3 separate regions of the Homo sapiens genome follow, and all the other regions are linked to region 3. The links come from fine-mapping of genetic effects on gene expression. A gene starts in region 3. Each other region holds a variant in brackets. All regions are shown on one strand. Distances are from middle to middle.

Region 1 (2,683 bases), 110 kb after region 3:
TCATACGGCTTTTGCAGAAAGTGTTGAAAGAAGCATTCTTTTGGCTTTCCGGGCATTTTGAATTCCTAATTCTGATTATTTTTTTTTTTCTCTATGCTTAGGGGAGGCCAGAGGGAGGCCTTTCTCTGAGCTCTGCGGAGGCCAGTAGGTAGAACATTTCTTTCCATTTTGCTGCTATGTATATTTGTTTCTTTCACTTTCTTTCTTCTTTTTAAAATTCACACCAAAATAAATGATTGAATTTAGACTTTTTTCCAACTTAATAAAATTACCTTGGGTTCAAAAACTATATTTGAGAGGTATAAAGTAATGGACCTCAATGGAATATGAGGTTTATCACTATCAGGTCTGTCTTATTAGAAGCCTCATATATTCTACCATTTTACAGAGCTCTACATAATTAAGGAAAAATTAGGCTGAGTTTTTGCTCTTTTTAAACTTAGATTTGCTGTCTATAAACACATGGTCACATATTCTAGAGAAATTCCTTCATATGTACAAAAGAGGATGTGTTTGAGAATGTTCGAATCAACGTCGTTGGTCATCACAAAAATAAATTTTAATCATGCAATTAAAAACAGGTGGCAGTGGAGTTGGAATGAATTAGAGCCATAGTTATTAACAAGAAAAAAATCACTGAAAATTAAAAAGTTGAAAGATATTGGGAGTATGATCTCATTTATACAAAGCTTAAAATCTACAAAACAATACTATTGTTTTGGATGCCTCTATGAGTAGTAAAAGCTAAAAGAGTTGCATGGGAATAATAAACACAAAATTGAGAATAGCGGTGATTTGGGCAGTGAAAGAATGGAGGGGAATGGAGTCAGGGAAGTGCCTTCAACCGTATTTGTAAGATTTTAATCTGAGGGCTGGGCATAGTGATGTTCTTTATATTATTTTAATGGCTTTTCATGTATTATTTCATACTTCATAAATTATTTTTTAAAGAAAAAATGTGGAGGCATGCAGTTTGTTCTACTATTCTCTCTACTTTTCTGAATTTTAACATTTTTCAAATTAATAAAATACTATATTTTAAC[G/A]TAAACTCTACATGCATAACTTCCCCTTTTTGTCACCTATGTTTTAGTACTCAAATGAATTGAAGGGAAGATAGAGTGAGGTAGTGATATTATTTCAGAAGTAGTGAACCAAGGCCTCCTCTGCTGGAACTGGAACTTGAAATAAATTAGGTTTAGTTCAGTCTGGAGTATTAATTGGATTTAATTATTTATGAGCTAAGTGTCATAAGGGTCCATGATCCTTAAAAGAATTAATCACATTTCAAAGGGCATTGAAAACCATATAAACGCAATAAAGTTGCATAGTCTATTCATCAGCACATTACCTTAAAGTCCTGTGGAAGAAGCAGTCTATTTAACATTCTAAAAATTAGTCCAGACTTTTGTATCAGACTTTGTGCAATGTCATTTACTACCCATGGGAAAGAAATGATTACACACATACCATAACACAACACATATTTCATAAAGATACAGGCGTATTTAACAACATATATATGAGATACATGGGTGGATGACTACCTGGAAGGTGGAGGAGATTGGCTAAAAATAAAATAAAATGCCTTCTGGCAGGTCTGGCCGGATTCCCACTGGATTAGCCCGCTTCTAGAGGCCGTGTGTCACCAGCATTGGTGACCAGCACTACAGTTGCATCCATCTTTCTAACAAAGACAATCCACAGACAAGCCCCATCACTTAAGCTCGTGGCCAGGACTGTCCAGGATGTGGCCCTCAGTTCTGGTTCTTCTGTAAAATCTACAACCTTCATAGTGGTTGGCCACAGAAAAAGAGAACGTTTTCCTGATGGAATGTATTAGGAGAACACCACTCTAGGGAGAACAATTTACTTTTTTTTATCAATCCTGAAATAAATCAGTGACAAAATTCAGTCAGACTCTGGCTGTTTATATTTCTAGGAACCTAAGGAATTGCCAGGTGACTCCATGTGAAGCTACCCAGGTACCAGGATCTGAACGTGTTAACACTGGACACTCAAAGTGGACAGAAGGGCAGACAGGCCTGGAAAGATTGCTCCATGTCCAGCAAATTCCCTGTGGCCTCATGGTGTTGCTTGTAGGTCTGGATAGACCCTCCGTGGTTTCTGCCCATCATTTTTGCCTGGCTCTCACGTCCATGGACCACCTCTCCAGAGAGCTGCTCTCATCATCCTTCCAACCTGGGGACACGATTAGCACTGCCAGGACAGGTAGCCCCTCTCTTGGCTTTTTTTTTTTTTTTTAATTTACAGATTCCCTTTTGTCCCCATGTGCATCTCCCTCACCAGTGTGTGAGATGTGTCTGTAAGTAAGGATACGAATGTCCTTAAGAATATGTGATGTCATTGTGTGTACTGATGCATTTCAAGTAATGCGAATGGCATTGGGCTTAAAAATGATATAAAGAAAGAGAGGGGTTTTAATGGACTGGTCATGATAATTTGCTATGAATTCAGGAACTCTTGAAATGATTATGATGAACTCTCTGCACTAAGGTTAAAAAACAAAAAAACCAGATCCCTTGACCTTAAGGTCAAGGTTCTCTTCTTCATAGAGAAAAGGAACATGATGAGTGCCCCATCCTGAAGCCATCAAGCAGGCTTTAAGGGCCAGATTTGTTCCAGCAGTAATAAATAATGTTATCGGTTATAAGAATCTAACATC
Region 2 (2,683 bases), 65 kb after region 3:
CAATGTGAACCCAGGAAGCACTTATTTTTTGGATGCCAGGACCCATGCTAAGCCAGGGGATGCAGTGGTGACAGGCGAGGTCCCCACCCTCGTAGTGCACATGGCCTACCCCCCATTGCCATGGAAACAACACAGAAGTCCTGATCAGGCTTTACTTGTCCCTTAGCTAGAGCTCAGTGAGTCTCCACCACCCCTAGCTCTGAGCATCTTCCTCCCAGTCAGCATGAATTGGAGAAATTAAGCTGGAAGCACCCTGAGATGTTACCTAGAACAGACTGGGCCTGGAAATAAAATTAGGGCTGATACCTCATATGGGGGCTCATACCTATAATCCCAGCACTTTGGGAGGTCAAGGCAGGAGGATTGTTTAAGGCCAGGAGTTCAAGACCAGCCTGGGCCACATAGCAAGACCCCATCTCTACAAACAATTAAAAATTAGCTGGGCATGTGGTGCACACTTGTAGTCCCAGCTACTCAGGAGGCTGAGGTGGGAGGATTGCTTGAGCCTGGGAGGTTGAGGCTGCAGTGAACTGTGATTGTGCCACTGCACTCCAGCCTGAGTAACCAAACAAGACCCTGTCTCATTAGCCGGGCGTGGTGGCGTGCACCTATAATCCCAGTTACTTGGGAGGCTGAGGCAGGAGAATCGCTTGAACCTGGGAGGTAGAGGTTATAGTAAGCCAAGATTGTGCCACTGCACTCCCTCCTGGGCAGCAGAGCGAGGCTCCATCTCAAAAAAAAAGACCCTGTCTCTAAAAACAATTTTTTAATTTAAAAAAAAAAGATATTATCTAGGGCAGTAGTCACCTCTTACCTTACAAGTGGTCGCGGGCTGAGGCCCCAGGAGAGCCTGTGCTTGCCCAGGAGCTGAGAGGGCATGGGGAGGCCAGGCTGGAGCTGCAGATCATCCAGCATCTAGAATGCCTTCTGTCTGCTTCACCTCATTGCATTCTCATTCTGAAATGACCACAGTGAATCAAGGAAGTAAAATCCTGTAAATGCTATCAAACGTGCTTGCGATAAGGGCTGGAAGGCCTGTGGCCCAGGAGTTTTCTGGAGCAGTGTCTTCCTACTCCCATGGAGAGTGGAAAATTGACCATAGGTGGTTTCCAAGAGGGACAAGGCTGCCCCTGGGAAGGCAGACAAGGCCGCGTGAGAGCCAGGGGATGGCAGGTGTGGGCACAGAGTGTTGTGAGTAAGAGATTGTGGAGGAAAAGCAAGAGGTCAGTGCCTCATGGAGCAGGGCTGAAATCGTGAGGTCACAGTGCATGAGGATGGTTAGTCCATAGAGGCATATTCTATCAGGAGGAAATGTTATTACTCCTCTTAATCATAGGGTCCTCATGCCAACAGTTGTGTGTCACCCTACAGTGGTAACACATTGTCTTCCTGAAGGGTCATCTT[T/C]TGTTTTACCCAGCGTGCCACAAAGTGAGTACAATTAGCCCCATTTTACAGATGAGACCGTCACACAGAGAAATGACATAGACCACCCACGGCTCCGTGAGTCCTGAGCTGCTTCAGGCCTCAAGAGCCTTAGGTTCCAGGAAGAACAGGGTCAGAGCCTGAGCCCCAGTCTCCTGGCCGCCTCCCCTTCCCCCACAGTATCCATGAGTTTGGCTAGCCTGGGAATTGCTCATAAACATACTCTTACCATGGATTTTCCTAACTCATTATTTCTTACAAGTGCTAAATTCTTAGGAGACTCTAAAGGAATAGCTCTAAAGGACTCTAAAGGAATAGCTCTAAAGGAATAGTTTCCTATAGCTCTTCTGAGTTCCTAGAAAAGAGACCAAAACAAGCCCCCAAAACTAAGTTTCAAAAACCCTCTAGTCTTGTGGGCCTCTCCTGATGAAGCGCAATGAAGGGCGTCTGCCTCAGGTCTGCTAGGGCCTTGGTGAGGGCATCCCCGAGGGTAAAGGTACTCAAAAAAGTGCCCGCCATGAGGCCAGCCAGGTAGCACTGCAGTGCTCTTCCTAGCTATAAAATACACTCCCTGGCCAGCCTCAGAGCTGCTGCTGGAAGCGAGTCTTGCAGGAATTGATGTTGAATCTAGAGCCGAAATCACCATCCTTGCACCCCTGTCCCAGCCGTGACAGCAGATACTGGCTGGCTGTTTCCAGTTCCTCCTTGGGAACCTCCAGGGTCTTCATCCCCATGTGTCTGTCCTTCCAGTTAGGGTTGGGAGAGGTCACCAGTCCCCTGGGCATTCATGGTTGTGCGCATGTGGGTTTATTTCTGCTGGGCTGGCAGAGTGAGAGGGATCAGGGCAAAAGCATGTGGTTAGCTTCCTGATATACTGCCCGTCAATGTTCCTGTCGGATGGTAATAGCTCTGGATTAATTCCCTTTCTACACACTTCTTCATTAAGAGCATGGTCTTTAGCCTAGGGAGGGATGGAATGTACATGCTTTAGGGAGTTTGGAGCTCAGGACAGGTGAACTGAGAGCAGAGAGCTCATAGCTGCCTGGCTTTGTATCTCATGCCAGAGTGCTTCTGAGAATCCCCAGTGATCAAGAAACCACTTTTGCAGTGTTTGAGGGACCTGGAGTAAAGGACAAATGTCAAGAGGCCAGAGACCAGCAGTGTCATCCTGCGTTTCCTAAGTGCAGAAAGGGTGAATTCTGGAAATCACAGTGTTCCAGGTGTCAGTCCCAGGCCAAATACGGAGTGATTTGGAGACAGA
Region 3 (2,683 bases):
TTCTTTTGAAAATTTTTACTCAGGTAAAATTCACATAACATCAATTAACCATTTTAAAGTGTACAGTTTAGTGGCATTTAGTACCTTCACAATGTTGTGGAACCATCATCTCCATCTAGTTCCAAAATGTTTTATCACTCCCAAAGGAGTCCCTATACTCATTAAGCAGTCATTCCCCATTCCTTCCTCCCCACCCCCACTACTATGCTTTCTGTCTCTGTGGATTTACCTATTCTAAATATTTCATAAGATGTAATCACATCATATGTGACTTTTTGTGTCTGGCTTCTTTCATTAGCATACATTTCTGAGATTCATTCATTGTAGAATGTATTAGCATTTTATTCTCTCCCCCCCACCTTTTTTTTTTTTTTTTTTTTTGAGACAGGGTCTCACCCTGTGGCCTAGGCTGGGGTGCAGTGGCATGATCTTGGCTCACTGCAGTCTCCATATCCCAGGTTCAAGCAATCCTCCCGCCTTAGCCTCCCAAGTAGTTGGAACTACAGTCCCTTGCCACCACACCAGCTATTTTATTTTATTTTATTTTTATTTTTAGCAGAGATGAGGTCTTGCTATGTTGCCCAGGCTGGTTTCAAACTCCTAGTCTTACACGATTCTGCTGCCTCAGCTTTCCAAAGTGTTGGGATTACAGTCATGAGCTGCCCTGCTGGGCCACTTTATTCCTTTTAATGGCTAAATAACATTCCATTAGATGGATGTATCACACTTTGTTTACCCATTCATCCTTTGACAGACGTTAGAGTTGTTTCTACCTTTTGGTTATTGTAAATAGTGTTGCTGTGAACACTGGTGTACGTGCATTTGTCTGAATACCTGTTTTCAATTCTTTTGGGTATTAGCCTAAGGGTGGAATTGCTGGTCATATAGTAATCTATGTTTAACTTTTTGAGGAACCACCAGATTGTTTTCCAACAGCTCAATAATGTTTTACTGAAGTTAAATAGAATAAGCAGGAGGGAGTCTGGGAGGCAGGGATGAGGGCTTTTCCTGTCCTTCACAGGCAGCCCTGGACTCTGCCATTTACCGGCTGTGTGATCTGGATCAACGTACTTAAATTCCCTGCGCTGCCTCCTAATCCTCAAAGTGGAGAAAATAAAACCTAATTTCTGTGAGCTGCGTGAGATACTGTTTCTGAAGCTCCAGGCACAGAGTAAGCCCCCGCTCATTAATTGCCTTCCCTTACTCCCTGACCTTGCCTTTTCGCACTTCACTCGCTGCCACGTGGCCTCGGAGCCCAGTCCGCACCCGCAGCCCCCAGCTGAGCCAGGCTGCAGACTACAACTCCCAGCGAGCACTTCTTCCCGGCCGCCTCTCCCCAGCTGCTGCGCATGCTTTGGCAGACGTGGCACCGGGAACTCGGAGGCGGGGAGCGGCTGGGAAGTGGCCGTGGTGGTTGGCCGCGGTGGAGCTAGCAGGCGGGCGGGCGGGAGCGGGCGCCGGAGTGGAGAAAGGAGCCAGCGGTGGGCAGCGCTGCTGGGATGGCGCGGGCCGGGCCGGCGTGGCTGCTGCTGGCAATCTGGGTGAGACTGTGGGGCAGGGATCCGGGCCGGGCCAGCACGTGTGTCCCGCGTGCCCTTCTGCGCTCTCTGCTCCAGCCCTCTGCGGAACGTGCGGGGAGCTGCCCCGGGGCACCGGGATGAGGGCGTGCATGCCAGGCAGGCGGGCACTGGGTGCTACGCGGGAGACAGCGGGCGTCCCGGTGCCCTCGCCGCCAAGCGCTCCCGGACGCAGGGGCAGGAGGCAGCTGTGGGGCGCCGGGAGATCCCTGGCAGGGTGCTTACGCCACGGCCACAACTTTGCGGGGATGCAGGTCGGGGCACAGCCGGTCGGGCAGGACGCCGGCGGGCTGCGGGGTGAGCTCCGCTCCAGACTCCGAGCCCTGCACCTGTGTGAGTGCGGGGTGGGATGGGGGTGCTTACTACCTGCACTGCCGGAAACCTTGGTTTAGGGCCACCTTGTTCTTGGCTTCGGCCCCAGGCGTCTGGGAAACTGCGGGCCACCACCTGGGCCTCCGCCCACAGGCCAGGCTCGGTGGGCTGGGTGGGGTCGACGTAGCCCGCCCCGGCGGAGGAGCTGCTCCTACACCCAACTGAGGCGGGCTCGAGCCTCAGCCACTTTCTAGCTGTGTGACGCGGCGGTTCATTTAATGTATCTGAGCTAGTTTCCTCATGCATGATATAGAAAGGCAAAGCTACCCCCATAGGGTGGTTCTGAGAGTCGGATGAGGTCTCAGTGGAGGAAGCTGTGTAAACTGCAAAATCTTACAAAAGTGGAAAAGGAGTGGACTCCAAGAGTAGTTTGCTACACTTGGTGGGGGGGACTCCAGGCATCCCTGAGAGAGGTCGGAATGGGTGTGCCTGCCGGCCCAGGTCTGGGGTTTGGCCTTCGTTTCGCTGTGGGTGTGTGATGAGATATTGTGGCCTCCTTCCCCATCTTTTCCATAACTTATGCGCTCCCTTATTTTAGGACCATCCTGGTCCTTTTCCCCTGAAGTTCCAGGGAACTTCCTGTTCCTGGCACCCTCCCCCCAACCCAGATTTTCCCGTTCTTTTCCATTTGGGTGTGGCAAGGACACTGGGCAAATGGGAGGAGAAAAGTGTGGGTTGAGTTGCTTGAAACACTTCCATCTCCCAATACCCTGGCCTTTTGGATCACCAGTGAG

What was found. PIP is the estimated chance that this variant, and not a neighbour inherited with it, causes the effect. A credible set is the group of variants that fine-mapping cannot tell apart.
Region 1: its variant is the best candidate, but not a certain one, in a credible set for the expression of PDIA5 in monocytes (TOPMed, PIP 0.66).
Region 2: its variant is the best candidate, but not a certain one, in a credible set for the expression of PDIA5 in whole blood (INTERVAL, PIP 0.54).

Annotation. Positions count from the first base shown.
Region 1 is chr3:123,179,390-123,182,072 of GRCh38, forward strand. No RefSeq gene overlaps it. Among named protein-coding and RNA genes, the nearest start is that of MIR7110, 19 kb to the left of the region's middle. The variant G/A (reference allele first, on the strand shown) is at 1,044.
Region 2 is chr3:123,130,687-123,133,369 of GRCh38, forward strand. The region is part of intron 11 of PDIA5 (protein disulfide isomerase family A member 5); the gene reads left to right. Among named protein-coding and RNA genes, the nearest start is that of MIR7110, 30 kb to the right of the region's middle. The variant T/C (reference allele first, on the strand shown) is at 1,405.
Region 3 is chr3:123,065,666-123,068,348 of GRCh38, forward strand. It overlaps PDIA5 (protein disulfide isomerase family A member 5), which reads left to right and starts at 1,360. Exons shown (of 17, transcript NM_006810.4): 1 at 1,360-1,541. The coding sequence starts at 1,500. RefSeq lists a silencer at 1,415-1,654.